Linked DNA regions of Homo sapiens: regions 1, 2 and 3 are each linked to region 4. The links come from fine-mapping of genetic effects on gene expression. A gene starts in region 4. Each other region holds a variant in brackets. All regions are shown on one strand. Distances are between the middles of the regions. Region 1 overlaps ETV6 (ETS variant transcription factor 6). Region 2 overlaps ETV6 (ETS variant transcription factor 6). Region 3 overlaps ETV6 (ETS variant transcription factor 6). Region 4 holds the start of ETV6 (ETS variant transcription factor 6).

Region 1 (7,852 bases), 160 kb before region 4:
TCTACAATAATGAGCAGAAACATAATAAAAAGCATTCTGAACAAGTGCAAGAAGACTCCTAATAAATATCTTATTACATGTAGCATATTTTACAGTGTTCTATAAATTTTAGGTAGACTAAAACCAAGGCTTAAAATGAGTTAGCATTGGGACATTTTTACTGCCACATGTGTCTGATTGCAAAGCGATGCTTTTAGACAGGGTTAGCCTTCTGCAAAATTCTTAAGTAGGTGATTCCATCTCAGCTTTCCAGTTCTCTGCCCTTTTCCCTTCTAGGTGTCATAAAATAGCAGGACCAGCACAGGTTTTGGACCAGGCAGCTCTGGTTTAAATCCCAGCTCTGTTCCTGACTGGCCTAGGACCTGGTCAGGTCATCTAGTCTCCTGTCTTCATTTCCTCATCTGTAGAAACTGGATCCCAACTCACAGGGATTGTTGTGAAAATTTTACGTGTGAAAAGTGCTGGACCTTAGCAGGCACTCAGAAATGTTATTTTGCTTCGTTCCAACCAAATCATCCCCTTTCCCATCCCTTCATGATCTACACATCCCTGCTTCATCTCACCACCACCATCATCACTAAAACAAGCATCCAGGAAGGGATTTAAAAATGCTAAATGCTCTGGTGAAATGACCACCAAGAGCTTAATGAGCCATCTCCCTGGTCTACATGTCTTTCTGCAAAAATCCATGCTCAAGGAGTAAACTGCTAATGGTAGAAATCCAGGCACCCAAGGAAGGGCTGGGAAGTGTTTCGAAGGCAGCGAGTCCTTTCTGGAAATCTGAAACCAGACAGATAAGCAGATAGCTGCAGTGGCCAGGTCACCATAGCATATTCCAAAAGACACTGCTTCTTGGAATTATCACTGGCCTTTGCTAAACAGCCTTTCCTTTTCCTATTGATTGCCAAGCTTTATATAAACAGAGCATTTCTCATTTTTAGTTAGATTCGAAATGAGTCCGGTAATCTAGATTCCACTAGAGCATGTGGTAAAAGCAGAAAGACTGGTTGAGGCTGAGCTCCTGTTATAAGCAATATCCGGGCAATGATTTGAGTTAGAGAAGACAAAAAACACAGGGGGGAAAAACCCTGAAAAGAATCAATTATTTGCTGTACCACCACTCTGAAAGTGGTTTGAGGCTTTGTTTTAATAAATGTCATGTATTTAAGAGTTTAAAGAACTTTCTGGACATTGGAGGTGTTTAAAAATTGGAATTGGAGGTGTTTAAAAAAAAAAGAGCTGCCTGTGAAACAGTGAGATTCCCATTGTTAGAGGTATCCAAGGGAAGGTGGGTGGCCATCGCTCAGTGATGTCATATTTGGAATAGAGGCAGAGTGTGAGGCTGGAATAGGTGACCTGGATCATCCATCTAACCCCAAGTCCTACCATAAATCTATGAAAGCAGCAGCAAACAAAGAGATAATAATAGTTTCAAATCTTTCAGAAGGTGTAGTTATTATTAAAGATGGACCCAATCCACCTTTCCAGGTTAATCCTAATCAGGAACAGAGAGGAAAATCTGACCTGTGGACTTCACTAATTGTGATAGTCAGACATCTTTTAGATTGGATTTTGCCAACTTGAATCTCAAGAGACCACAGGTATTTTTTATTTCAGTGTGGTTTCTCTTGCATTAATTCACATTTATACTTTTTGCCCTCCATGATATTTAGGAACCATGGATCATGGCACACAGATGCTTGGTTCTGAGCTGAGGGGCCATTTGTACTCACACATGCACCCTCCATACCTAAGCCACTCCCAGCTCTTTCAAGGTCTTCGAAATGCCTTTGGATTGCTGGTCTTTTGTGCTCTTTCTGAAATAAGGAAGTGCTTTTCTTCACGGGTTTACATTCAAGGGCTTTCTACACGAGCTCTCAAGTTGGACTTCTACTTGGACTTGAAAGTCCATCTAGAAAGCCCATGAACATAAACCCACTTCCAACCCCTCTGTATATTCTCACTCTAGGACACGACAGGGATTAGGAGAAAAGTGGGTTGGAATTCACTACTCATACTCAGGACCAGCTCACAGAGGTCTCAAGTAAAATGCTCCATTCCAGCCAGGTGCGGTGGCTCACGCCTGTAATCCCAGCACTTTGGGAGGTTGAAGTGGGCGGATCACGAGGTCAGGAGACTGAGACCATCCTAGCTAACATGGTGAAACCCTGTCTCTCCTAAAAATACAAAAAATTAGCTGGGCGTTGTGGTGCGTGCCTGTAGTCCCAGCTACTCAGGAGGCTGAGGCAGGAGAATTGCTTGAATCTGGGAGGCGGAAGTTGCAGTGAGCTGAGATCACGCCACTGCACTCCAGCCTGGGTGACACAGCAAGACTCTCTCCAAAAAAAAAAAAAAAAAAAAAAAAAAGCAGAAGCTCTATTCCCTCCCCATTTTCCAAGCAATAGCCAAGATGAAGGTTTTATGGTGGGCAGGGAAACTGGGAGGGTAGATGTGCATATGGTTTAATTATGGATTAAGGGACACCTGCAGACATTGATCCCTCTCAGCCGAAAAAAGGATGCAGCAGGAAGTAAACTACGAATAAAAAGCTGGTTTTACTGAATCAAGTATGTATCTCCTGGCTTCCCCATTTTGGTAAAATAATTTAAAACCACACATGGAAGAAGACAAATATACAGTTCGAGGTAATTATAAACATGTACCTTAAGTCAAGACACATTAATGTTTTGCAAATGATCCATTATTCTGGACTATCCATATCATTCTCCTCTTTATTAGAAGAGGAAATCAATAGCTGATAATACGTTCCTTTAGCTATGGCTAAATAGATCTTGAACTTCATTCCTATTTTACTTACTTTCATTCCTCCCTTCTACCATCTCCTTTTTTCCTCTTGTCTTCAGTTCTCTTGTTTTTCCTATATTCATTTTGCATCCTTCCTTCTCGTTTTATTGTACATTTTTTCTTCCTCCTTCTTATCCTTTTTTTCCTCTGTTTCATCATGCCATTATCTATGACCTCTCTTTTGCTCACTTCCTATCTTTTTTTTTTTTGACACAGGGTCTCCCTGTGTCACCCAGGCTGGAGTGCAGTGGCACGATCACGGCTCACCACAGCCTTAACCTCCTGAGCGCAGGTCATTCTCCCACCTCATGCCTCCCAAGAAGCTGGGACTACAGGCGCGTGCCATCACACCCAGCTAATTTTTGTATTTTTTTGTAGAGATAGGGTTTTGCCGTGTTGGCCAGGCTCGTCTCCAACTCCTGACCTCAAGTGATCTGCCCACCTTGGCCTCCCAAAGTGCTGGGATTACAGGTGTGAGCCACCACACATGGCCCTTGTCATTTTTAAGTAGGTCATCCTGTCATCAATGAATTCCCTGAAATCCCATTTTTCTATTCATCCTTTCTCTTCCAAGCACTCCTTTGTCAGAGGTACCTCACTTTCTTCTCTTAGTTTCTCTCAGTACTTTATAGCCTGCTATTACCCTCTTTGGTGTAGCTTTACTTTGCTTTCCAGTACAGTCATTCCTCTGCATACACAAGGGATTGGCTCCAGGACCCCCCGCCCAGATACCAAAATCCAAGGATGCTCAAATCCCTTATATAAAATGGTGTATATTTGCATATAACCTATGTGCATCCTCCTGTATATTTTAAATCATCTCTAGATTACTTGTAACGAATACAATGTAAATGCTATCTAAATAGTTGTTATATGCTATTCTGAAAGTCTGTATTTTTTTATTGTTGCATTTGTGGGTTTTTTTTTTTTGTTTTTTGTTTTTCTGAATATTTTCTATCTGTGGCTGGATGGAATCACGGATGTGCAACTCACGGATATGAAGGGCAGACTGTATACCTTGTCAGGTACTTTTTTCTTTTTATTGTATCCCATGGGGGAAATGGATGGTAGATTGGTGGAGGTGGCTAGAATTGTAAAGAAAAATATGAAATTCACATGAAGGCTGGAGTTACTCACATGACAACAACAGCTTATGGGGCTCAATTCTACTGCCCTTGCGTCTGTCACACAGTTGAGGTTTTGGAATGAACTACGTATGCCATCCTTGTTATCAAATATTTGAGAACAATTAGCTTTGCTGGCAAAAAATGACTTACATTGAGAATTCTAGGAATGCCTTGTAGGTATTCTTTTTCAAGTGAATTTTATGTTTCTTTTTTATGATTTCATTGATTTATGGGTGGATGTATTGCTGATGATCATTGGGGAAGGGGTCTGCAGGGAATTAAAGACAAAAACGTATGCTCCTACTACTTTAGAAGACTATGCTAAATGCAAAAAACATA[G/A]GTCAAGCAACTACTGGTTTCTCAAGTTCAAGAAGTAATTCCTATTGTTACCAGGAGAAAGGGTGATTTGATACCACCTACATTCTTTTTTCCAAAAAGGAAATAAAATTTGTCAGTCCAATCAAACATCCATTGCTCTAGTAACAGACACCTCTAGACAGGTGCATCCTGTTTCATTGAAAAGGTGGTTCATTTACATATAACCACTTAGGTAAAGCCTCCCTCTGTAAATAGGACATGTTGCTGCCTGCCAGTAAGTAAAGACTAAAGTGGGTTATTTGGTTAGCCTTTACATATTATTTTATTATGAGACTGCCCTTTCCCTTCTTACCCACTTTTCAACAGGCTCAGAAATGAAAAAAACTTTCATTTTTGAGTTTTCACAGCACAGTTGCAAACTCAGCCTTGAGCCTCACCTGCTCACTGTCTAATGAGCCCTGAAAACTTAAAGATTCCTGCCCAGGGTTACCGTTTTCTGACCGTGCATGTATTCATTTAAAGTCAATGTGGATCTGTCTGTACTTTAATTCACTCTACCAATTTTCTCTACCAGTACACATTTCTGCATGTGTTAAATAAAAAGTGATGTTGGCGTATACTACCAAAATCCACCACTATTTAGTGTGCATTTATTCTCTTTGAAATTCTTTAAGATCAAAATTAAGTAGACGCCTGCTTCTGCTACAATTTGCAATTGAAAGTGGTTTCTACTGAGCTGTAAAAAGCAATGTAGTTACATCCGATCACAATCAATCTCATGCAAACCACACGGTCTTTTCATGGATAACTTTACAGCCTAAACATACTTGGCAAACTGACGTTTGTGACCCTCAGAATCTGTCTGCATCTTTAAAACCTAGAATGAATTCTAGAAACCCAAGATAATCTTCAATGTGACAATTCTGTTTGACTGATTTAATCGGTGGAACACCATCAGTGAGACCTATTAAAAGTCACTGCTTTCTTTTAAGAAATGCTTAGCTTGTTCGGGATTGTCAGATCATGAGTTCATGCTGATTTCCAGGCTCAAAGGGTGAGGTCACAGAGTTGAGCTCCGCAGGATTTTTGGTGCTGTCCGGCAAAGGTGTGAGGACTACCATGTACGTAAGTGCCAATAAATGCAGGGGCCTGAAACTTGCTATTTATCCCTACACAGAACATGCAACTCTCTGGCCAGTTCTTTAAAATAATAAATATGTTACAATCAAACAGAAATGTATGAATGCTTGAAAGTTCCTTGAGGACGAGCCGCCTCTTTAATATTTTATTGTATATTATCTACAGTGTCTAGCACATTGCTAGACACATTGTCAGGAAACTTTTTAAACATGAAAACCTAAAAATGGCAGATTCATCATCAATGCATTTACCTCCATGTGTAACTAACAAAGGTGTGTAGAACTTTCCATCTTTCCTTGGTGCCTGCTTCCTCTTTAGTTCCCAACTACCAACTGATAAGCTTCTCAGTTAGCCTTCATGCAGCATTCATTTTGCAGTATAGCTAGAACACTATCAAATGCTTATCCTTTAACCTCTAATTGCCTGTTACTAGACTTTTGGGCCCAGAGCAATGCCTCTCAATTGTTTCTTACTTTGTACCTTTCACTCAGTTGATCACAAAGATTATTCCTCAACCTGACATCTTGATTATACTGTTCTTCTCCTAGGGGGCTACAGTGACTTGTCACTGTCCAACAAGGATGGCATACGTAGTTCATTCCAAAACCTCAACTGTGTGACAGACGCAAGAGCAATAGAATTGGGCCCCATAAGCTGTTGTTGTCATATGAGTAACTCCAGCCTTCATGTGAATTTCATATTTTTCTTTACAATTCTAGCCACCTCCACCAATCTACCATCCATTTCCCCCATGGGATACAATAAAAAGAAAAAAGTACCTGACAAGGTATACAGTCTGCCCTTCATATCCATGAGTTGAGCAAACAAATATGACAGTCTTAAGTCAATATAGTGTGTATATGATGTCATGCAATGCACACAGCTCTGTGAGGTAGATATTACTGTGCCTGGTTTATAAAAGAACCCAGAGTTTACGAGGTCCAAGGTTACTGAGGTAACACAGACACGGATGCTTGTTGCTCTTAGGATAAAGATCAAAATCCTTAACGTGACTGTCTTGTTCTACCTCACCATCTGCAATCCTCACCAAAGCAATGTGTCACTCTGCTTTTCCACAGCAAATTCAATGAATGCCAGTTGGGCTGGGCTTTCCATTCCCTGTAGAACAAATCCTCTTCCAGTCTCAGGGCCTTCACAGGCTCTGTTCCCCTCCCCAGAAATAATCCTACCTTCTTCTTTGCCCAATTAACTCCTACTTAGCTTTCAAGTCTCCTCTTAAATGTATGCGACACACCAGACCAGATTTCTGTATTTTATGCTTTCAAAGCATCCTGTACTGCTACATCAATGCTTTTACCTCCACATGTAACTACATTGATGAGACATATCTTGTCTATCCCTGCTCCTGTCTGACGTCCCACTAAACCAGATAGAGGAATAAAAAAGGTACAAACCCACAAGACAACAGAATGGGAGAGGAAACAATGGCAGTTGAGGGAGGTGCACAAAATTTTGGAAGCTGGAACAGACGGACAATTGGTATCTGACTCAGCTGAGCAGAAAATCTTAACTCAATCTGCCTGCAGGGGGAGATACCAATAAACAAACTCGTTTTCCTACCAGAACTTCATAAAACCTCAGAAACTGGGGGTTCCAAGTGCCTCTGAAGGCAGGCAGGGAACAGAGAAGACTAATAAAGCATCTGTGGCATGGCTGTATTCCACCCTCCCCCAGCCCAGCAACCTGCACCTCCTTGCAGATGAAAGGACATTTCCCTTGCTGGAATCAGGATGAATCTGAGAACGCCAAGTTCAGGAGGGAGCAAGGGTGAGCAGCTCTGGAATATAGGGGAACTCAGTGGAAATCTTCATGGTAAAAGCTCAAGTGCCATCATATATTGACTCTTTCTAAGGAGGAGCCCACAGGATTTCTTTTTGGACAAACTTGCCTTCCCAAAAGAAAAGACTCTGGAGTCTCCCATGAGACAGCCAGGCCCATCCAATTACCCTACAGGTGGACCCACTGGCATCATACCCCAGCTGTGCACAAGAATGGCCATTTTGAATAGATACCTAAGGGTCACCATCCAGTGTTTTAAAAAATTACATGTCAGGTGGTGAAAATTGCCAAGAAGAAAAATAGTGCAGGATAAAGGTGATGGAGAGTGAAGGAAGGTGTCGTTTGGATAATGCTGTTGGGGAAGCTTCTCTAAGGAGGTGATATTTAAGCAGAGGCCTGGATAAGGTGAGGGACTCTAACATGAGAGTATCTGGAGAAACAGCTTCATAGGCAGAAGGGCAGCAAGTGCAAATGCCCTGAGGTAGAACATAAACTTGTGTGTTCCAAGAATAGCAAAAAGATCAGGGTGGCTGAAGAGGAACTAGCAGAACACAAGGTGATGGAGGATGAGGGTGGAGAGGTTGACGAGATTTACAAATTTCAGATCACACAGGGCCTGGCAGTTCATACTGAGAACTCAGAAGGTTTCCAAATGAAACTGG
Region 2 (7,852 bases), 240 kb before region 4:
GCGCGATAGAGTGAGACTCTGTCTCAAAAAAAAAAAAAAAAAAAAAAAAAAAAAAAAAGTGCAGCACCTCAAGCCCCACCCAGAGAGTAGGGTAGAAGAACAGATCTTCTGTCCAGACTTCCCAAGATACTACTGAAGCAAAATCTGCTTTTTTCCCTGAGATCTGATGATTCATAAGCACTTTCAGGTTTGAGAAGCACTGGTCTAGTCCAGTGGTTCTAGAGTCCTCTGCAAATGCCCTGGCTAAATGCTCATCCAGGCTCTGTTTAATAATTCCGGGGACAGACAGCCAAGGTCAGTTAGCAGATGAGAATAATCCTTTTATTTTTCTTTTTAGATCAGGCTGGTTAGGCAGATAAGTGGGCATAAGTGGATAAATTGCTGTGCTCTAATTTGCAAGGGCAGGTCAGCTGTTAAGAGTTACCCTTTAAAACAGCTCATCTTTACAGCAAACTGATTGCTTAAAAGGTTTGGAGAAAACAAGACGATGACTTTGGTATGTGATTCTGTGTCCACTTAGCCTCATTCCACAGTATATCTACCATTAGGAAAATGCAGCGTTATTGTGTGTGAGTACTATTGATGCAAATTAGTTGTCATCAATTATTTTGAGTTTATTGTTTAAATTGCTACAAGCTCTCTTTCATACTAAGATGAAGAAATTGGTAGCAGTGACTCTCAGACTTTTGTGTGCATCAGAATCACCCAGAGTGCTTGTTAAAACATACTGCTGGGTCCCAGCTCCAAAGTTTCTGATTCAGTTTATGGGGTGGGAACTGATAATTTGCATTTCTAGCAAGTTCTCTAATGCTGCATTATAGAAATAGTAGCTTCGAATGCATTTTTAGCACCACAAAAAAAATATCTAGACCCTTATTTGATACTGTGCTCTGATCATACAGAATATAGGGCCAAATTTCAGCAATCATTCTCAGGGGATACAGAGTAACTGGGTTAACCTAAAGACAAAAGTAAACTAAGAACATTTTCTGAGACTGCTGATTTCTTAGACATTTTGAACCTCCGCCCAATTTGCTCAACAGCAATGCATTTGCTTCCTCTTCCATTCTTCCCCTTGTTTCCACCCACTTCTGATGGCAGATAGTTCTGGTCAAGTGCAGAATGTTTGATCTTGAACTCCCAAGTGCCCACTGGTTGGTGGGTGGCTCTGTTGGTCAGGTTGGCTGGGACATTCTGAGCATGTGGGCTGGCTCTGAGCTGTGTGATGACCTTCTAGGTCATTACAGTCCTGTATTTAGTCATAGGATCTATCCCAGCCCTTACGCCTTCATCACCTGGTAGGCTTAGACCTCTGATCTCAGCAGATTTAAGGGGCAATTCTATTGTGTGAGGACCTGGCATTGCTAAGTTCTCAGTGAGCTAATAAACCTTCACCACAGCATGGGACCCAAGCATCTCTGATCACGGTTCCTCTTGGTAATTCTTCCACCTGTGGCAGCTGCTCAGCTTGGAATGGTTCACTCTGACCTTTCCGGTACCACTTGTCTAAAGATCGCCTGCAGACTGCCCTGCAGCGGAGACTTGCTGCCAGAGAAAAACCATGATTGCCCTTTATACCATAATTGAGTGGAGACAGGATTTACCTCATCGGAGCACCTTGTCTGACTCCATTTCATATTATTAAAAACAGAGACTCTGGACTTCATGGTTTTTTTTTTTTTATAAAAAATTTATTGAGATGATGTAATTATAGGCTTTTCTTTAAAAATTATTTGCAACTCACTGGCCCTGAGAAAAGGCATTTTTTTTTGTTTTTTTTTTCTTTTTTGTTACATTCATTTGATTCAGTCCCTTATAAACCCCACACCTCATAAACAAGAGATTAGAAACTAAACAAAAAGGGGGGCGGGGAAGGAAATTCTAGAGTCGTTCTGGTTTGCAGGTGGTTGCGGTCACAAAGAGAAATCATCAAGAATGTTCACTTGGCATGTGTGAAAGATTCAGGGGGTCTGCAGCTGTTTAGTGTTGATGCAGTTGGGTCAAAAGAGTATCAGGTTAGTCTTCTGTGGGTTTTAGGGAGGGATTATGGTGCCTCCCTCCCACCCCACTGGCTTCCTTGTGTCACAGCCTTTATTTCTACTCCGAAGAGGAGCAGGAGAGAGTGAACAGCCTCTAACTAGCACCAAATGCTTGGGCAAAGAAAACTGCCCCTTTTTCTTGGTGTGTTTTCCCAAATCTTTTATCTTCAGTTTCCTGGGTGGGAATGAGCCACACAGGGTGAGCCCAGGCTGGATCCTGAGCCTAATTCCATTCTTGGCATGCTGTCTGCTCCTAGGGCAAGTCACTTCACCTCCCTGACACCCAGGTTTCTTTTTTGCAAAAGGGAGTTCCTATTTCAAAAATGTATTCAGACTTGGAGCCTAGGCAGTGAAAGGTGGGAATGGTGGTTACTTCATCATTTCGGTAAATTGTCACAGCCATTTGAATTTCAGCTAAAGCGACATTCTCATTTGGACAAGAGATCAGTATCAAAAGACATTGGATCAGAGGGTTCCAAACATACTGGTGAAAGGAGAAAATCCATTGGTCTATTATTCCTCTTTTTCTGTGGGGATACCCTCATCTCCCTAAAGGATTTGGAACATTGGTGATGCCACCTTAAGCAAAACCAAGTCGCCCTGGGTCAAGATCTTAGAGTTCATGTTACCTTCAACATAGCCAGTCTAGCCAATTACCAGTGCTTTCTTCTGATAGAGAGGAGACTGCCTGGCTAGCTTGAGATGTAGGAATGAGAACTTCAAGACCCAAGTGAGAATGCACATCCATCACACGGCAGGGCTCCTTTGCATTTTCCTCTCCTGACTTCAGATTTGTCTCCTGACAACACCCCTAGTACTTAGTGTTGAAATGAGTCACGCCGGGTGGATTAGGCAGGTACAATATAAACTCTGAAAGCAGGGATTATGGCTGATTGAGCTTTGGGTCCCTCAGTGTCCAGCAGGTGCTTCATCAAGGTTTGCTAACTGAATCTGAAATCTTTAGGGTCTGCAGGGTGTAAATACTGTATCCAGGTGCTGGCACTACCCGGGTTTTCTCATAAAGAACAAATGAAGAGGACATTTGCAGTTAGGGGAATTACGAAATCCTTATTGGTAGTACAGATTGATATCCCTTATCTGAAATGCTTGGGACCAGAAGTGTTCTGGGTCTCGGATTTTTAAATGTTTTTTTTTGTATCCTGGAATATTTGTGTATGTGTGTGTGTGTGTATATATATATATATATATATATATATATATATATATATATATATATAAAATGAGAGATCTTGGGGATGGACACAAAGTCTAAACACAAAATTCATTTATGGCTCATATATACTTTATACACATAGCCTGAAGGTAATTTTATGATATTTGAAATCATTTTCTATATAAAACAGTTTGTGTACATTGAACCATAAGAAAGCAAATGTGTTTGTTAGGTGTGGAATTTTCCACTCATGGTGTCATAGCGTTCAGGAAGGTTTGGATTTTGGGGCATTTGGGGGTTTTAACTGTTCAGATTAGGGATGCTCAACCTGTATCTGAATGGGAAATAAAGACTATATTGGAATGAGCGCCTTCTATTTCTTCTTCAAGTGGCTGAAGGTATCATCCTAAGTCTAACATATTCTCCTGGGATATTGCTTTAAATATAGAAATGCTTGGGGCAAAAGGGAATTTCCCTCCATAATTCAACTGTTAAGATTCTTTGAACAGTAAGAGACTGAGTTCTTGCACTTGGGTGAAGAGGCCAGACTGAGAGGCTCTAATCCTAGCAACATCATGCCCTGGTCTCTGATTTCATATTCATACAGAGGGATGCAGTAAAAAATCCCTTTCTCTCCATTCTTAAAATCAGTGGCTTTCACAATACATCAGGTATTTGGCTTAATCTCTGCATTTCAGATAGAATACCAGTCATCTTAGAGGCTGAAATAGGGATCACCATGTCCTACTGAATGCTCTCAAAAGACACCTGCAGCGTGCTGAGATCCAGCAGAATCTCATCACCATTCAAGCAGACTGAGACCCACTCGCCTCATATAGAAG[G/A]TCCCTGACCTCCCGGAAGGTTGAATGGTGGGGCGCCTGTGACAGTAGGAGTGGGCTGGCTATGCCCGTGTGTCTACCTGTGCTCTGATAAGAGGCAGGGACAGAGCAAGGCTGAAGAGAGCCTTGATCAGCTCCTCAATTCCAGTGTCCTTGAACCATAGTCCATCTGTTTGCACCCTAGGTTGGTGTCCTTGTCAGTAAGGCCGAGGGAAAATTCCTCTTGCCTGTGTGACCCAAACTCTACATGTCTGACTCAACTCAGAAAAAGCTGGGGAGAAGCCCAGGGGTCTGGTAACTTCACCTGGGAGCTGCTGCTGAGGGCACATATGTATCCCGGAGGAGCTGTGAGTTTCTCCCCCAACTGAGTAGAGGAAACAGAGGGGAACAAGGAGGGGGTGCTTTGTAAGGCAGGTGTAATCTGGATTAAAAGAAATTGTACTCCAAATATTGGATTTCTGAGACCTATATTGGAAGAGTCAATTTAGATGGCTAGAAAAGGAAAAAAAAAAAAAATCTAAAACAGCTTTCAAAAATACTAAGAAGTGGCACTACCCTCATTTTACAAGATACCATCGATCTTATTTTGAGGTGAAAAAGAGCCACAAATGGGTCCTTTCTGAGACACAGCTATGAAAGAAAGAAAAAATAATGTATCCGAGGAATTTCCTGTCTGCCCAGGCTGGGCACACACTGATTGCAACTGAGACTGCCCTCTGGGATCCTCCGTCTCCAAAGCTCTGTGTCCAGTGGAGACCAGGAAACTTTAAAAAAGGTTAGGAATTGAAAAAAAAAAAAAAAAAAAAAAATCAGGTGAGGGCATGAAACTGACCACAAGATGGCCTTTGGAATGGAGCAGAGAGGAGCTTTTCTTTCTCACTAGCCTCTGTTACCTGCTTTGGAAAAATAAATCCCCACTGCAGAATATTTTTGCCCAGTTTCTGGACTGCTGGGCCTGTGTGGTCTTTTCATATTTTCCACTTTGCAGCGCTGCGCTCCCAAGCTAATCCCAAGCTGCCGAGGCCTTCCAAATAACTTGGACAGCCTTCCATCCTTATCTTACGCCTTAGACACATGGTTCTCACAGCCATCTCAGGGGCGGCTCTCTGGACTAGCATGTATCTGTCTGCAGCACAGCAGCATCTGTGATGATTTTGGCCTCCCTCAGATGGGTGGCCCAATGCTGGGATGCGGGTTTGATTCTGTGCTGCTGGCCACAAAGCACCCGGGTCACTGATTCTGTTTAGGTGCCAACAATCCCCAAGACTCTCCAAGAGGCTGAACTCTGTCAGAAGGCATCTGAATCTCAACTGCAGGCAGGGCGGGAGGACAGAGGGGACCAAGGGAAGAACAGAGCAAGAGAGAGAAAAAGAGAGCTCTCCTTTTCATTTTATCTTTTTTAAAAGCATTTTTTTTTTTCAGCCAAGACCCAACAGTAACAGGAACAGACCTGATCCACGTGGCAGGAAAAAGAGGAACCTGAACCCCTCTGCAAGTATTCTCTTTCCTGACCAGCTGGGCTTGCCGCACTTTGTGAGATTTGCAAAAAATATATATATAATAGATATATATTTCCATAGGAAAACAACATCAGATGTCTTCCCCTAGATGAACGATGAAGAGTCAAACTGCAGGTTCTTAAAACAAAAACAAAAACAAAAACACCATGATACTAACAACGGTGGAAGGGTGAGGGTGAGGAATTACAGATGGAGAGATTCCAAATCAGAAGGAAACGTGACATGGAGTCCCAGGCTCATGCCCTCCGCCAGAATTCCAGCCCCGCCTGTGCTGGGTAGTTTGTCTAAGGTGCTCCAGGGTCCCTCTTGGTCTGCAAGAGAAGTGTCCCTGCCATTTCTGGGTCGCTTCCTTTTCCACTCTCCTCAGCCCGCCTGCTCCGTCACACTTCCAGCAATCCTGGTGGGCAGGGGTTCCCTGGGCTGCTGGCCCGCTGAGGTGGACTGTTGGTTCCTTCAGCATTCATCTTCTTGGTATATTTGTTCATCCAGCTCCTGGGACTCTAGGTGCTCCAGACGGTCTGTTCGGCCACTCATGATTTCATCTGGGGTTTTCATAAACCTTTGGAAGAAGAAGTGGAGGAGGTAAGAGATTCCATTTTCCTAAAGCTGTCTTCACTCTGAACTCTAGCCTGTATATAAAGAAAGACTCCATCATCTTATACAGCTGGAGAGCTACTGAACCCCGAGATTAATGTTAACTTAGTGCAAATTAGGAAAAGGTACTCCTTTCTCTGACTGTCTAAAAAGTGGTAAAATGCTTATTTAAAAAGACTAGGGCCAGGCATGGTAGCTCATGCATATAATCCTAGTGCTTTGGGAGGCCAAGTTGGGAAGATAACTTGAACCTAGGAGTTTGAGACCAGCTTGGGCAACATAGCGAGACCCCACCTCTACCAAAAAAAAAAAAATCTGGGTACGGTGGTGTGCACCTGTAGTCCTAGCTACTTGGGAGGCTGAGGTGGGAGAATCCCTTAAGCTCAGGAGGTTAAGGCTGCAGTCAGCTATGATCATGCTACTGCACTCTAACTTGGGTGACAAAGTGAAATCCTAATTATTGGAAAAAAAAAAAAAAGTCTAGGCTGTCTGTGACGTAGTGAGCACCCTTTGGGATCACGTGGTGCATTAATGCATGACCACACGAGAAAGCCTTGGTCCAGACCATGTATATATGTTCTTTCTTTTACAGAATTAGATTTTACAGACTCATGAGAGCTGTATATCCACTTCCATTCCAGACTGTGAGCCCAGGAAATGGTATTCAAAACTTACTTAAATTTCAAAGGATATAGTTAAATGTTAAGTGAAAAATGCTGACAATAGGACAACTTAGTGGAGCTTCTGGAAAATTGGAAGGGCAAAAAAAAAAAAAAAAAAATCTTTTACAATGTTATCACTGATTCACCCAAAATGCCAGCAATGAACCCTCTTTAGTCTGTCTACCTTTGCAACTGGGGTGTACAGCAAGCCTCATCTTCCTGTTCAATGGGTTAAACTGGAAGTGACATCAGTGACATGTTTTGACCATAATTTACATGGCTCAGGAAGGCAGCCTGGTTGCAGATGTTCCACCTACACTGTAGGAGCACCCGTTCCAGTCCCCTTCTGTGCCTGCACACCTTTCTCTCCCCATATACTCTGCCCTGCGCCACTATCTTAGAGCTTACATTTTCTCTCATTCCTCCACATGCAAAAGCCTAAAATGACCACTCATCAAGTCAAAGGTGCATCCTTTGCTCTGCTCATCGGGTCTTTCTGCCATCTTTACCTAGGAAGCTCTTATTTTCCACTGTTCATCAGTATGAACCCAATGCAGTCTAGCGGTCTTGGCTCTTGTATAAATCATGGCGCATGCTCTCCCATGTATCTTTAGCTTTTCCCTTATCTGGAGCCCTCCTGACTCTTCTCACGAGTTGAGTCCTACTCATTCTTTGTGTTCTGTCTCCTCATCAAAGAGCTGCTTAATGGCACTAGTCCATGATTTCAACACTTAAACCTCCATCTTCTTCAACACTCAAACATCTTGTAAAGAGTATCTACAATTCAACACCTCACTTGATTACATACTAGGTCTTATACCAAGAAACCTTCATTTTGTGGCAAGTCTGGCTTCTAACATTCATTTCCTCAAAATGGACTAATCTCTCCCTCACTAATAGCACTATTCCTTTCTCTTACTGAAAATCTTTTATTGGAAGCCTATCAATCTTCTGGCTACTACTGCTTTTCCTGCTCATTACTGGCAAACTTCTCCAGCAGTATGATCTGTAGCATCTGCAGTTT
Region 3 (7,852 bases), 180 kb before region 4:
TGTACTGTTATTGTTATAATCACCTTTATAATCTCACCCTACCTGAACATATATAGCTAGCACTTGGAACCCAACTGTAAGAATGTATATTAATTGATATTACATTTTATCTTATTATTTTTAACCATCATCCCAGCCTGCTGCAGTCTTCTCCAGATTTCCATCGATTTCTAGCATCTATACTCTGTAATTTCACGTCATCTGTGGCTTTGCTAAGCATCTGTCACCTCCACAGGTTACTGACAAAGTGCAGATCGTATAGGGCTGAGATGGGAGTACCCTGGTGACACACCAGTCACCTCCTTTTGGACGGATACTGATCAAGTTATTGACTCCTTTTGGGAAGAGTTGTTCAATGATCAATCCATCTAAATACTCTGGTTTTTGGACATTTTCCAAGCTCATCCATGAAAGCAACATCAGAAATTCAACGAAACGCCTTCCTGATATCCTGAAATACAGCAACTACAACACTTAGAGCAACCTTATTAAAGAAGATGAGGAGAGAGGATGAGGAGCAGATGGCTGGCTCCAAAGTGATAATGTCTTCCACTCGTAACATGTATGTTTGAAAATCTGTCCTGAATTTTATCTGGAAGTTCCATCAGGTTAGCTGTTTTATTTCGTACCCACATTTTCCCCAGCTTCTCTTCCTAAAATCAGGTTACCAACAGTTCCTATTCTTTTAGTACAGCTTCCATTTCCCACAACCCTGAAGGATCACTGCCAGTGGCTTATCTTTCACCCCTCTGAGTTCTCGACCCTGGGATGTCATTTGTCCGGGCCAAGAGCCTTGCATTTATTCAGAACTTAGTTTGCTTTTACAATCAATTCACCCATCTCAGGCTTCAATTCCCTTCTGTCAATGTTTGCACTACCTGTTTCAGTCTGACAATCATTCTCCTTCATGGGAGAGAGAAAGAAGTTGAACAGTTTTGGTTTCTTTGCCATTTGCTGATGTTACCCCATCCAACCCCATCAGCAGGCTGACATCATGCTTATTCTTATCCTGCTGCCCACATTTATTGTTTTCTTAAGCGTATTCCATGGTTTTCAGCTCACTTACGTTTTAAAATTCTAGAGCTCAGAAACTCTCCTTTATATGTTTCTTTTCATTAAGTTGCTTTTTCATCCATTATATACATCTTTTTAAAAATCGGAGCTCATTAGACTGGTACTCACAAAACAGTGAGAAGATAAATTGGCATCATCTCTCTGGCAAACAACTTAGTGATATTTTAAGAACCCTGTAAATGTTAACTTCTCAGAATCTACCTTAAAGAAATAACTTAGTATGTGGAAGAATCTTTCATGCACAAAGATGTCTATTGCAGTGTTATTTTTAATAATGAAAAACTAGGAACAGCAATAAGGAAATAAGTAATAGTTACTGACAATATCTATGATAGAAAATTAATGCAGCCAGTAACATGATGAAGAGTATGTATTCATATTGAAAAATAGTATGTGTACATATGTAATAATCTCAATGCATAGAAAAATACAATGAAACGTAAAAATATTCAAAGAATTGACACTCAGTAAAATTGTAGGTGATATTCCCTGTCTCCTTTTCCTTTTTTCTTTCTTATTTCTCATTCTCTATTAAGCATGTTTTACTTTTATATTTAAAAAACTATTTAAGGGCTGGGTGTGGTGGCTCACACCTGTAATCCCAGCACTTTGGGAGGCCAAGGCCGGTGGATTGCTTGAGGTCAGGAGTTTGAGACCAGCCTGGCCAACACGGTGAAACACTGTCTCTACTGAAATACAAAAATTAGCTGGGCATGGTGGCAGGCGCCTGTAATCCCAGCTACTTGGGAAGCTGAGGCAAGAGAATTGCTTGAACCCAAGAGGTGGAGTTTGCAGTGAGCCGAGATTGCACCACTGCACTCCAGCCTGGGCAACAGAGTGAGACTCTATTTCAAAACAAACAAACACACACACAGACACACACAGACACAGACACACACACACACAAACTATTTAAAAATTGAGCTAATCAGAGAATATCCCCAATATCGCCTCATCAGTTTCTTTAGTTGTCTCCCTTCCTTCTTATTCCAATAAGGGTCATATGCAGTTGATAAGTCAGGATTTCATTTTCAAGAGCAGCCCAAATGACTCTGAGTTGTGTCTCAGCATTCAGATCATGAGATCATAAATACTTTTCCCTACATTTTAAAAATTTGTCTTAAGTCAAGAAAACACATCTGTTCTTGTCTCTCATTTCCCTTCCCCAATCCTAAAATCATGTTTTTATTCTCACCCTCTGCTATCATTTCTACTTTTCCAGACAATTCCTCATTTGTCAGATTTGAGTGCAAATTAGCAATGCTCCTCAATGCATCTTCCACCTTCTGGGAGATGAAATTGTGAATTGTTAGGTACATGTGTTAAGAGTTAACATGTCCATGCATGTAGCTGAAGGGGATTTTGCAGTGATTTGCACACGGTGCCTGGCACATAACAGTCCCCAGGTTTAATGCCAGACTGTACAGCCAAAGATTTCCATTCCTAGGCAGTCCACATCTGAGCCAGCTCTGCAGTCTGTGATTGGCACCCCTCTCCTCCCCGACACATCTGATCACTTACTCCAGCTCTGGCTTTGATGGTCAGGACACTCAGCTCTGTGCAGTTCAAAACATTACCAGATGCTTCCGCATCCATGTCATGCCATCATCTATTCTGCGAGGGAGCTAAAGCTGGCACAACTGTATTTTCAGAAGAAACTGAAGTTCAGAAATCGAGGGACTTTCCCAAGGTCACAATGAACCTAAGACCAAAACTCCAGCTCCAGGCTTTCTGTATTACCCAGTGAACTTCCCCTGGGTTAAAGGAAATAATGGATGTAAAAGCCCCTTGCACTCTAAAATGCACTGTAAAAATGTTAAGGGAATGAGGAATAATAAACCATAAACTCAACTTCTCATGGCAGGCCTGGTCTAGCTGCAGATCCCGAATACTGCTCGGTGCCCACAGAGCACCTTCTGACCTCTGCTTGCCGAGGGCAGGGTTTACTTAGAGTTCTTCCCTGTGTACTCTGCCCTTCAAAAGAAAACCAAGTGTCCTCAGAGCCCTTCAAGCTGCTTCCCAGAGGCACTTTTCCGGAGACTTTTCTGCCTCCTTTCCCTTCCCCACCGGCCTGCTCTCTGCAAATCTGCTCAAAACCCCCAGGCCAGCCTTGGATGCATTCTGACAAGCTCCACATCTCACTCCTCTGGGTCTGCCTGTAATCTTGAATGTGCTATCTGACCAAAGCTGCTTTCTGCAAACAAATCCTGTCACTAGGGAATTGGAAGTTCCAAAACATTTCCTATTTCTGTCCTCAAGGTTAGCCTGTATCTCAGCACTAAGTTTCCAAGTGGAGGTCGGAAGGTTATACTCATGTCTTTCAGCCCAAAGTCCAAGAACAAGAACACTCTATGTTCATGTTCAGATCCAAAGTCACAGTCAATTCCCTCGAATGATGTTTTTTCTTATAAACTTCATTTTGTGGATTTTTCTGACTTTTATCTAGTTTTAGCTACAAACGGGTTTTTAGCAGAAAACCTGTTGACAGCAAAACTGACCCAGAGCTTGCCGCTCAGCCTCACAAACGTGACTTAGAAGAGTTCTTCTCATTTTTGCTTCTGGGTAGCAAGCCCAATGTGGTGAGAGCCATGTAGCATTTTAGATCAGACCTTGGGTTTCGCAGTCAAATTGTCCTGGGTTAAAACACCGGCTGCACCACTTACTAGCGCTGGGTTAGTTACGCGTCTGAATCTGTTTCTCCAGCGGTAAGATGGAGTCCAGAATAGTACTTACCTCTTAGGGCAAATGTGAGCATGAAATGAGGTGATCCCTA[T/C]AGAGATGTTGCACAGTGCCTGGTACAGAGCAAGTGCTCAATGCATTTTGGGGGGTTGGGTAGGACAAGGACTGGATAGTAGATGAGTTGTACTTTGTCCCGTGTCTCCAGAAGACCAAAATACTTTCAGCAGCTCCCTGGAGCTGCAGAAGCTGGAGCAAGCATTCTTGGAAGGTGCATGACGGCTCTGGCAGGAGCTATGAGGCCCAGTACAGTGCTTTGAGGAGGGGACTGAATTGTCATCTTGCAGGCTGGGAAAATGGCTCAGGTGGGGTTGCGGAAAACAGCCTGGATCAGGGAGAGGTTGGAGGAAAGAAGGCTGAAGGAGGTGCCCGCTCAGGCCCCAGGCTAGGCTGAGGCAAGTAAGACATTTGCCCCAGGAGCAAAATTTAAGGGGTACCTTTAAAAAGTTTCAGTAATCAAGATTAAGTCATGTAACGCAATATTTTAAAAATCAAAATTAATGCAGAAAATGTATGGTGACGTAAGCATCAACATTTTAATTAAAGTCCATATCAAAAAGAAAAAAGATAATGGGGAGGGGACAGCAAAAAGGGAGTGGGGAAGAGATTAGAGCAAGTACTTCTCAGCGTTAGGAAGAAGGTACAGGATTCTTTGAGAATTCAGCCAGAGTTCATAAACAAACCCCCCTTCAAAATGCACAGGCACATGGACACAAATATTTGCTTGTGATTTCAAAGCTTATAGACTACCTCAAGTTTATCCATGGATCCCTGGAGAATCCGTTTAGTATTTTTTTTAGTCTCGTGTATGCAAATAGTTCTGACAATATGTACCTGTGAGGTAATGCGAAAACCAAATCAGGTTTAAGAGAGATATATGTCTCTCCTGATATTTCAGGGAGAAAAACAGAAAAGAGAGACACGAAGGGTGCCCTCTTCTCACTTAGAAGTGGGGGTACAATGAAATGTTTGAGCTGTCATTTCTTTATTTGAAACGCACAGTCCTGACCTTAAATAGGGAATGTCCCTTCTTCAGTTATTATAGACATCATTGCTAACATATTGAAAGTTTTTCTTCATAGTAGTTAGGGTCAATCACTGCAAATAACCTTAATTTACGTACAATGAGGCAACTTGGCTATGCAAGGAGAGATACTATACAAGGATGAGTTTCTAAAGCAAAGAGGCATTAAGGCAGCATTTCCTATACTGCAGGGCAGAAAGGTCATTTTTATTATCAAACTTACTGATATGTATGCTTACAAAGAAGCCTGAGTTTAAGAAGAAAAAAAAAGTAGGAAAATAGATATTAAGAGTTGAAATGTTCCTCAAACAGATTTATTGAGAAATCGAAACTGCTGGAGGAAAGTTGGTGCAAGAATGTTTGTAATCCTCAGCAGAAATGGATGGGGTACAGAGAACATAAAGATCCTGCAGGATTTGCATGATTCACAGAACATGGATACTCTCCTGAGGGTGCCTGAATAAAGAGGGATGAAAATTCTTTCCCCTCCTGCTCTTTTAAACCGCACACGGACCATCTCTGGTGCCCGGCACAGTCTGCAGAACATTCCTGTGCAAAGTGTAACCAGAGTAAAACTCATTCTCATTCTGAACTGGGACCTGATCTGTCCGTCACTTGCATGGAGGAGGCTTGGCTTTGTGTGGCTCAGCTGTGCCTGTTCCCAGCCCTCTCGGGTGTCTCTATTCTCCTGCGAAATTTTAAAAAGCCTCTTCTCAGGATGGAGACAGTCCTGATAATCACTGAATTCCAGGAGGAGGAGGTGGAGGTGGACAGGAGGTGTGGGGGCAGGGCGCGGGGGCTGGGAGAAGGGAGTGCGAAAGAGGTGTTGAACTTTTACATGAACAGACCTCAGAAAATACACATAGGGACCCAAAGGCAAATCTGACCTACAGCACCTCCAAAGCATGGCTTTTCTAGAACATGCTGTTTTTTAAGGAGAATTCCACTGCACCCCCTTCTTCCTTGTCCTCTTCCCTGGCTCTTTGGAGAGTGCTTCCAAGTGCTTTCAAAGGCCCGGTTGGTTGCCTTTGGGTGTCGAATCTACCCTCCACCGAAAGGCTGTCTGGGCTGCTGCTGATTCAGCATTTCGCGGGGCAGACTGCTGTGACACACAGGCAGGATGAAATCATTTTAACAGCGTTGCTGACGCCTCATGAAACAAACAAACAAAAAAAAACAAACTTGGAGAAGCAACTTCTATTTAAAGATAATTGTGTTGCATTTGTGTGTGTGTGTGTGTGTGTGTGTGTGTGTGTGTGTGTGTGAGACAGACTTCTCTCTATTCTATTCTATCTCATCCCCTTATTCCTCCTTTCTGAGGACATTCATACGGAAATGGCTTTTATAGACCTATCAATAAAAAAGCTGTAATCTTTTTTCTCACCAGTTATTAATATATTCCCTAGTATTAGAGTTGTAAAGGTTACTAATCCCCTGGCTTAAGATGGTCACTTGGAGTCAGGAAAGCTAAACACCACCACAAAGCGAACCCCGTCTCCCCTTCCAGGGCCACAGATATGTAACTGGATGTCTCATGCTTTGTCCCTGGGCTTATCTGAGACTCCAAGGCTCATACTGGGAGGCCCTCCCTTGCTGCAGAACACTTTTCTCCTTGGCTCTGTCACCCCACCTGGGATTTTACATTATTCATTCGTTTGGATGAAAGCATGAAGATCTCTGTACCAGAGGAAGCAGGCAAAAGGAAAATGATAAATCAATACAGGCTGTTCACACTTAGCTTTGGTGGGTAGTCAGATGAATGAGTGGGGAGGAATGAGTCAGGTGACCCTTGAGTTTTAAGGGCAGACTCCCAAGTAGGTGGCAGGGGTCCTGGAGGCAGGATGGTAGGAGTGACAAGAGGTAGGAGCCCTCACTCCCTTCGGCCCGTCATCATTCATGGCTTACGATTCTTCAAAGGTGCTTTTCATTCTGTGCTGGAAAAGGTATGAGTGTTAACAATATAGATGTGAATATTCTGAGTTCTGGAAAGAGGCCGATGTCTGTTTTTTAACTTTGACATGGGAGTCTGGAAAATCTGTGAAGAGCATGAGTGGCTCATCATGGATGGAGCAAGTAATGCTAATCCACCAAGTGCAAAAATGCTCCCCTGAGGTTGGGCAGAGCGTAAGATGGGGTGAGGTCTCTGGGCGGTCTGCAGGCTGGCCTCCTGCTACCCTACTATTTGTAAAAGCATGCTGTTGGCCAGGTCCTGTGGCTCACACTTGTAATCTCAGCACTTTGGGAAGCCAATGTGAGAGGACTGCTTGAGGCCAGGAGTTCGAGACCAGCCTGGGCAACATAGCAAGAGCCCCATCTCCTTGAAAAACAAAATAAATTAGCCAGGTGTGGTAGTGCATGCCTGAAGTCCCAGCTACTCAGAAGGTTGAGGTGGGAGAATTGCTTCAGCCTAGGAGTGGCTGCAGTGAGCTATGATTATACCACTGCACTCCAGCCTGGGTGACAGAATGAGGCTCTGACTTTAAAAAAAAAAAAAAAAAAAAAGGCATGCTTTCTACTGTTGTTGGCAAGAATTGCTAACTTAATGGAAATATTTAAAATCTCTCTTAACCACGTTATAATAAAATGAAACAACGAAATTCAAATCCTGTTTTTGTCACTTACTAGCTCAGTGACTGGAGATGGCTGAATGTTGGCTGCCAAATAGAAATGTCCGTGTCCTAATCCCCAGAACCTGTGAATAAGACCTAATTTGAGAATGGCTCTTTGCAGACGTCATTAAGTTAAGGATCTCAAGATTATGCAGGTGGGCCCCAAATTCAATGACAGGTGTCCTTATATGGAAACAGAGGAGAGACGCAGAGGAGAGGAGATGGCCATGTGAAGACAGGGGCAGAGACAGGAGCGATGCAGGCGAAAGCTTGCTTTGTGGTTTTTTCCCCAGAGACTCCTATTATCCACGTGGTGAAATTTCTTTGCCGTTCTTCAATATTTGTCACTTTTTCTTGAGTTGTTTTTAAAACCTTTCTTGTTTCTTCTTTAAAAAATTTCCTGCTTCCC
Region 4 (7,852 bases):
CCTATTGAGTGCTTTCTGCAAGCAAGCCAGTGGATGAAAGTGTTACGTCACCCTGAGGTTACACGCAGACAGAAAGAGGAAAGGGGGCTGGCCTCCTCCCACCTCTCACTTCATTCACATCAGCAAACATTACTGAGAAATATTTCTATGCCAGCTGCCAAGCTAACTACTAGGACACCAAGATAATCATCACTAAACCCAAGGAGCCCAGAGTCCAGAAGGGGAGCTCGAAAGAGTCTCCCAGTTAGTAGCAAAATTTTAAAAACCAGATTTCCTTCTGCTATGAAAGCTGACTGATACGGACAGCAGGGAAGGAGGGGACTAGAGACACTGTGTGACTCGTTTTTGGATTCTGGTTAGTCCTGGCCCACTAACAAGCTGTGCCAAGCCTGACAAGGGACCGTGTCTGCTAGGCCACAACCACCTTCCGCTGCAACTTGGTCAAACTTAGAACTGAAGAGGTGACTTGAAGGTGAAGGCTGATGATGGAAAAGACAGCCTCTTCCTTCTTCCTGTGACCAGCACAGTCAGCCAGGCAATCCTCTTTAAAACAATTTGACTTTTTATAGAGAGTTGATCCTTTCCTTCCATTTAAACGACCCCAAATGGTCAGGAATTGAAGCATTTGAACTTCCATGACAACAGTGCCACAACCTTCAAGGGTTGTAGGACAGACCCCCCCAGGAGTGCTCGAGCACTCCTGCTTTCTGCAAGTCGCGTGTAGAGAAACAATAAGGCTCAGTGAGAGTTTCAGTGCCCTTGGAGTAGTCAACCTCTCTTCTACCGTAAAAAGTGTGTGTCTGATATTAACTTCCCCAGGCGATGGGAGCAAACTTACACAGTGCAAAAGAAACAGAAAAGCCCTTATCAGGCATTCATTGCGAGCGACCACCACATGAGCCATCTTTACAAAGGCGTCACTGATTGACCAATTCAGAAACTTTCACCTTGGAAACTCCACCCAAATCGGACACTACTCTTTTCTAGCAGAGCAGGCACTGCTCAGAAATAAACAAAGTACTTCCCTCTGTGGCTGCATCTCACCAGCCGCTGAGGAACTGTCTGCCTGCTGACCCGCTACTTGTAAGGAATGAAAGCAAGTGAGGACGGTTTCAGGAGTGGAGAGGAGGACTGGGAAAAACCTCTCCACAGTGAGAGCCTTTTGTGTCACAGGAGTTCGGTATATCAGGTTCATCAGCTCATCCTTGAAAACCTCTGACATTCGTTCTTCACTACACAGAAAAGCATATTGTTTACTGGACTCTAGAAGCAAGCAACTTGCTTGTGGGTTACCAGCAAACATTTTTTATTATGCAGTCACCGTACCACATCCCAAGGACTAAATGAAACGCAGCACACATCACCAGAACATTTCAGATGACCTGGAATAATCCCAGTCCTTGATCTCTAGTGCTTATTATTGGAACACTGAATTAAACAAACTCCATGGAAAGATACTCTTCACATACGTTCACCTAGACACATGCAGTCTAAGCAAATACATACTCGTTCCATAAAGAACGATCCAAAATAAAAGTGATTCTTTCCTTTCTGGTAAAGAACATTAAATCTATTTTAATTACATAGAAGTACACAGTAATGAAAAGAGGCACCCTGAAAGAACTGAGTTGTAAGCAATAAGGAAAAAAATGATATGCAAATTACAGACAATTTTCATGTTGCATTTAAGAACGCGTTTTGCTTGGGATTGGTTCTGTATGTGAGTAAGGCAAGGGACTGTTGTACTCTTTTTCCGACTGGAGCACAATGAAACAAACCACTCAGTAGCAGTCTGCAGCCAGCACACCACCATAAGCCCATCAAAACGGTGGGGATGCAGTATAGAAGAGGATCAAGAAACGTCACAGAAAGCATTGTTTTTTGTTGTTTTTGCCCTAAAGTTACTGATCTGTAGTTGGCAGATTTTCCTGATGTCGGGTTTATTGCCACTGAGCCAAATACAATTTATTTATTGAATATCCTACTATTTAGTTACCTCTATGTTATGAAGCGTCAAATAAATTAGATTATCTATACCGCAGGATTTTCCTGAACTCTGTGTAGAATCTAATTTATACCGCAAAAGAAACTGGTTTTGAAGTATTAATATCAAAGTACCCTAAGTTCTTTAGTGTGGCACGCCCCATGCCCACAGACATACATACTGCTACCTCCAGTTATGTACAAACACAAAAGCCTAAAAGTTCCATTAGGCATTTTTGTGAGGCAAAAACAAAGAAGCCCAAACCACCTTTTGATTTCACATTAGCCTATCCTCAAACCCATGAATATCTTTTCTGATAAGAAACACCAAAATGTGATTCTAATTATAAAAAACCTAGTAAGCACGTATGATGAACTACTGCGTTTCCCCTACACAGACTCTAATTGAAAGGCAGTGTTAAACCAGGAAGGGTTTTTCTAACTCCCCACAGACGAAGAAAACAGGTTATTTGTTCATTGTTGCTGTAGTGTCCATTCAGTGAACACACATTAAATAGGCCAAACCAAAAACAAACTTCAGCAGCTTCAGCCTCTCACAAGAGCGGAAGGCTTTCTACCTGGGTACTGGTGGAACAGCGAAATGAATAAAGTGTACAATAAATGCAGCGATGGGAAAAATAACACGGGTAGATGGATAAATCATCCTGCCTCCCAATGGTGGCAAACTTTACAACAACTTTTTAGAAGCAACAAACCGCAGCACCACAGTCTTTACAGATATATAGACATGCATACACACAACTACTGGGTAGCCCAGCAGTGTGTTTACAAACATCTACCGCCCTGCATTTACAGAGTGCTGCTTAGATAGCCTCTCTGCACTGTCAAACACAGAAGGTCATTTTGCCTGGTTGCTTAGTTCTTCCTCTCCCTCCATCACAGGAGTTTTCTACTTTGGGATTGCTCAACTTTCATATGGATCGGAGTAAAATAACTATTCAGCAACTTTATTCACCTTGGTTTTAAAAAAAAATTCATTGTGCAATGCCTAGGAAAAGCTGACACCAGGACTGTCTCTCCGACAGCGCTTGCAATTACAATCAGACGAGGGGGAAAAAAATCCTGTCTGATCAGACCCAGAGAGTCCTTTAAAAAAATAAAAAGATTCTATCGCAGTGGAAACTGAACAACTTTTTTTCTAAGACGACCACCCCTCGGGAACAAAAGTTATATTTCAGTCACATGTTGGGTGTAGGAATAGGGAGCAGGTTTTTTTTTTTTGTTTTTTGTTTTTTTTTTTTTTAAGCGCACTAATTACGGGGGTGTTTTACGGTTCTGGAGACAATCCGGGTTGCTCTGACCAATTGTGACCGGCATTTCATTGTCAAAAAGCAAGGGGGTGGGGGCCGAGGAGCCGGCAGGGGCTCGGCGGTGGGGGGGAGTAGCAAGGTTACGCTAAAGGGTACAGCAGCCACCGCGAGCTGCATCTCTTTCCCTCTCGCCCCAAATAATTTCCTGCGAACAGAGCAACTGCAACAGCCTGCTCTGAGGAGCCCAGCACGACTGCCCTGGCCGGTGCAGCTCAGGGTTTCCACCACGTAGAAGGAGGGGAGAAGATTTTTACCTTAATGCTACACTGAGCAGGAGTCTCAGACATGTCTCACAGCGAGAGAGATCAGGAAGTTCTCAGGTTTTTTCCACTTTCCTTTCCTCTCCCCAACCCAGAAAGGCTCCACGGCCAGCCAGACGCGGTCATTTAAGAAGTTTCTTCCAGCATCTCTCCCGGCAGCCGCCCCGGGGGTCTGGAGCGCGCGGGGCGGGGCGGGGCGGCCGGCGGAGTTGGGCGCGCGGGGCGGCGGGGGCGTGGGAGACGGGCCCGAGCGCGGCGGCGGGGTCTGCAGGTCGCGGCGCGGCGCGGGGACCCGGGACGCAGCCCGGCCGGCCTCCCGGTCTCTCCTCCCACCCGCAGCCGGCGCCCCCGCCCCCCGCCCTCCCGCGGCTCTCCCTCGCTCTCTCGAATGTTTTCCTTCCTGGAAGAGAGAAACTGAAAGGCAGAACTGAGAAAGCTCTTTGCTCATTGATCTTGAGAGTTTCAGTGCAGAAACTGACGTGAATTCCCAGCACTGAGCTCTGCCTCTTAAAGGAGCCACCAGGAAATAAAAGCTCGGGTTACAGCCCGGCATCGGGGAAATAAAAGCTGCGCGGGGGAGGGGCGGCCGCGGGGGCGCGGGCGGAGGAAACCCGGGTAGCGGGGCCGCGTGGGGCCGCGGCTGCGAGCGGGGCGAGCGGCGCAGCCCCCCAGGCCGGCCCCCGGTGCGGGCGCCCGCCCTCCACGCCGCGAGACCTCCCGCTGGCCGAGCCAATTTCCGGGCTTAAGGAAGACACCTTTAAAAAACGTTACATTGTGGCCCCAGACACCACAAAACAGGTTTTATTAAACTCCTCCCACCTCCCCTGGCTCCGTCTCTTGGATACATCGATGTGCACAAGGGTTTTGAAACGTTTCACTAAGCGCAGATGCAACGAAAGTAATTATCTATGAAGGGCCATTCCGGTTAGGACGCGGAATCCGAAGGAGGAAATAAAACAATAGCCTTTGTTCTGCTTCTCGACCGCTGCCTCTTTAAGAGAATCCACCAGGAAATGGGAGATCGGGTTACAGCCTGCACACGGGGAAATGTGGGGAGAGCGGGCGCCCGAGCGCGACGCCGGAGACAAAGCCGGGGCGGCCGCGCCGCAGACGCTGGGGGACCGTCGGGCGGGGGGATTCCCGGGGAAGGTGGGCGCCCCGGAAAGAGGTGGCGCCACGCGCCCGCTCGGGGATGCGGCGGCCGCGGGCGCTTCCCGAGCCGAGCACGCGCTCCGGGAAGGGAAGGCTGCAGGGCAGTTATCAAAGGCAGCTGAGTTCCTTTTCCTGACCTCCCCCTCCTGTTTCGAAATCCACTGCCCTTTTAAAGAAATAGCGGCCGCTACCAACCGAAATAGGTGACTCGACTACAAAGTTGGCAGGACGTGTTCCTGCAGATAATACCCCTCCCCAGGACCGCTTCTCTGAAACCGTCATTGGCCGGTTGATTGGATGGCCCTGGGATCCTGCAGGGGGAGGAATATTTGGTTGGAAAAGCAGTTGAGGGGGGTTAAGGCCGTTGGGGCTGAAGGGTCTAGCCCTGAGCACAAGTGATCTGATCACTCTATTATTTTTATTATTATTTACACTCTCTTAAAGTGTCCACCACAAAAAACTGAGAACATTATCATTATACTTAAATTCTAACCTTGTTAGCACATATTGGGGGTTTAATATGTGGATGTGTAATGTAAAAGGAAATTTGTTATAATTTCTTAATAGAGTAATATATTAAATATGGTATAAATATGTATATACGCATATATACCCATATATGTTACCTGCACTGGACCAGGACACATTTCCCCGAGTCTCCCCACCCTACAGATTTTTCCTACCCACTTTCCTTCACCTCTTCACATTATCAAATGTGTTGAGACTTGTACACACAATATTTTTGTTCACACATTGATCAGATCATTACGAACGAGGCTAGGGTGGGAAAGAGTGCTGTTGCTGGGATGATGGGAACTGGTGGTTGTGAGCCTCCAGGAACCTGAACAGGTTTTGTCAACTGGTAGTCCTGCCCTCTCTCCAAGAGATCTCTGTCTTGTCCACACCGACTCCTCTGCCTTTGACCACCCCCTTCTCCCCTTTAACAATTTTCTGTATTCTTTTGCTTTTTTTTTTTTTTTTTTAAGACGGAGTCTGCTATGTCGCCCAGGCTGGAGTGCAGTGGTACGATATCGGCTCACTGGAAGCTCCGCCTCCCGGGTTCACGTCATTCTCCTGCTTCAGCCTCCCGAGTAGCTGGGACTACAGGTGCCCGCCACCGCGCCCGGCTAATCTTTTTTGTATTTTTAGTAGAGACGGGGTTTCACCGTGGTCTCAATCTCCTGACCTCGTGATCCACCCACTTCGGCCTCCCAAATTGCTGGGATTACAGGCGTGAGCCACCGCGCCCGGCCTCTTTTGCTTTTCTTAATTGATGTTGCAGACATTGGTTTAGATGTCCCATTGCTAGGTTATGTCTTCCACATCACTTAGCAATGTGATCCCTGACAACACAGTCACTAAGCTTCTGTAAAATGGGGAGAAATAGTACCTAGCTCATAAGATTATCTTATTAAATAAGAAAATATATACAAATGCCTCCTTAGCAGAGAGCTGCACAATATATGTGCTCAATTCAAGTTGGCTACAATTATTATTTAACCCCAGGACTAAATTAGTTCTCGACTTTTCTTCCTAACTCCTCCTCAACGTCTACAAGTGATTCATAGAAGTAGTAGTTTGAAGTAGAATGTTTGTGGTTCCAAAGCAAAAAACATAGTTGACAACTGTAGCAAAAACTACATTTAGACCAGGGGTTGCCAATCTCTGTAAAGGGCCCAGCTGTAAATGCCTTAGTCTTTGTGGGCCAAGAGACAAAATTGAGAATGTCAGGTAGATACTTATATAACACGAAGAAAAAAAAGTCCACAGTTTTTTATTTTGTCAATTCAAAGTGTAATAATAGCAATTTTAATACAGGTATAATAATGAAAGGCATGGAATTCTTTTGGGGGGAAAGTAACATTTCACTTGGTGTTCAAAGTGTTCTTTCATAAAAATTGACTGCAGATGTTCATCTATTAATGCTGATTTTTTATGAGATTTTATGTACTTCATTTTTGAAATGTCTTTCTACCCAGACAGATACCGCCAAATACTGATACCAACCCATGAGCACATGATTTTACTTGAGTGTATTCATTGCTTAGAAGGCATTTCTAAAATTCTATTAGAATTCTATAAATTCTCTTGATATTTCCCCTTTAGCATGCCATTACATTGCAGATTAATCACTTCCAGTTGAAGGTTAAATGGAAGCTTCTCAGTTGCACAGTTAAGTAAATTTTAAATATGAAAATTTCCTTTGCACTTGCATTGAAATTCAGAAAACACTGTTGGTACTGTAGTTTGAGTTCAGAAAAACATAACTGCTGCAAATTTGTGTTGGAATGGAGATCTTGCTTCTTGTTTTAACTTTTGACAGCATGAGAAGTGTGTAAAACAGCTTGACATTATTTGTGATTCAAACAATGTTAGTTGTGTCAAAATGATTTTACTGCAGTTTAAGTTTTGCATATAAGCTCTATTTTGCCTTGTAGTTTTAGGTTAAATTCATAAAGAAACATTATTGAGTCTGTAGTAAAAGCTTATTTGCAGAGCCATTCAGTGTTCAATAACAGTGGTTGAGGGAAGTTTTTCTCATTCATTCATTTCCATTTGTCGCTTGTTTCTCTGTTCCTTGTTTTCTGAGAACTTATGGGTAAATTGGATTTTTTTCTTTCATATTCCATTTAAATTACTAGATTGTCTTTTTAGATTTTCTTCTTTATGTTAAATATGGTGGTTGCTTTAGAAATTACAATTTGCGTATGTTATTATCACAGGCTACCTTTAAATAATATTATTCTATTTTATGAATCTGTAAAAAAGTTACAATGTAATTCCATTTATCCCTCTCCCATCCTCTGTATTGTTGTGTTATATTTTACTTCTATATGTTATAAAATTCATTTTACATTGTATTTTTATGGTATTTAGAAATTTGTAAATATATGCATATAATGAATGTATTAAAGTATGTCTCTTTTTAATTTGCCCAGATATTTATCCTTTCTAGTACTTTTTTATTCCTTTTTGCAGATCTGGTTTTCCATCTGGTATCTTCCCTTTGGCCTCAAGAACTTCACTCAGCATAGCCTGTGTGCTGTTTGTTGGAGAAGTCTCTCAGCTTTTGTCTGCCTCTAAATGTCTTTAGTTCATGTTCACTTTTGAAGGGTATTTTTACTG

Evidence for each region. PIP is the estimated chance that this variant, and not a neighbour inherited with it, causes the effect.
Region 1: its variant is the best candidate, but not a certain one, in a credible set for the expression of ETV6 in whole blood (TOPMed, PIP 0.52).
Region 2: its variant is the best candidate, but not a certain one, in a credible set for the expression of ETV6 in whole blood (INTERVAL, PIP 0.83).
Region 3: its variant is the best candidate, but not a certain one, in a credible set for the expression of ETV6 in whole blood (INTERVAL, PIP 0.89).

What each region holds. Positions count from the first base shown.
Region 1 is chr12:11,804,328-11,812,179 of GRCh38, reverse strand. The region is part of intron 2 of ETV6 (ETS variant transcription factor 6); the gene reads right to left. Among named protein-coding and RNA genes, the nearest start is that of ETV6, 160 kb to the right of the region's middle. The variant G/A (reference allele first, on the strand shown) is at 4,272.
Region 2 is chr12:11,889,220-11,897,071 of GRCh38, reverse strand. ETV6 (ETS variant transcription factor 6) reads right to left here. Exons shown (of 8, transcript NM_001987.5): 8 at 1,695-6,131. The coding sequence ends at 6,026. Among named protein-coding and RNA genes, the nearest start is that of BCL2L14, 180 kb to the left of the region's middle. The variant G/A (reference allele first, on the strand shown) is at 4,056.
Region 3 is chr12:11,825,318-11,833,169 of GRCh38, reverse strand. All of the region lies in intron 2 of ETV6 (ETS variant transcription factor 6), which reads right to left. Among named protein-coding and RNA genes, the nearest start is that of ETV6, 180 kb to the right of the region's middle. RefSeq lists a silencer at 791-860 and an enhancer at 2,688-2,887. The variant T/C (reference allele first, on the strand shown) is at 3,848.
Region 4 is chr12:11,645,877-11,653,728 of GRCh38, reverse strand. ETV6 (ETS variant transcription factor 6) reads right to left here and starts at 4,055. Exons shown (of 8, transcript NM_001987.5): 1 at 3,569-4,055. The coding sequence starts at 3,601. RefSeq lists enhancers at 526-575, 906-1,015, 5,053-5,152 and silencers at 3,703-3,862, 3,873-3,922, 4,133-4,342, 4,633-4,872.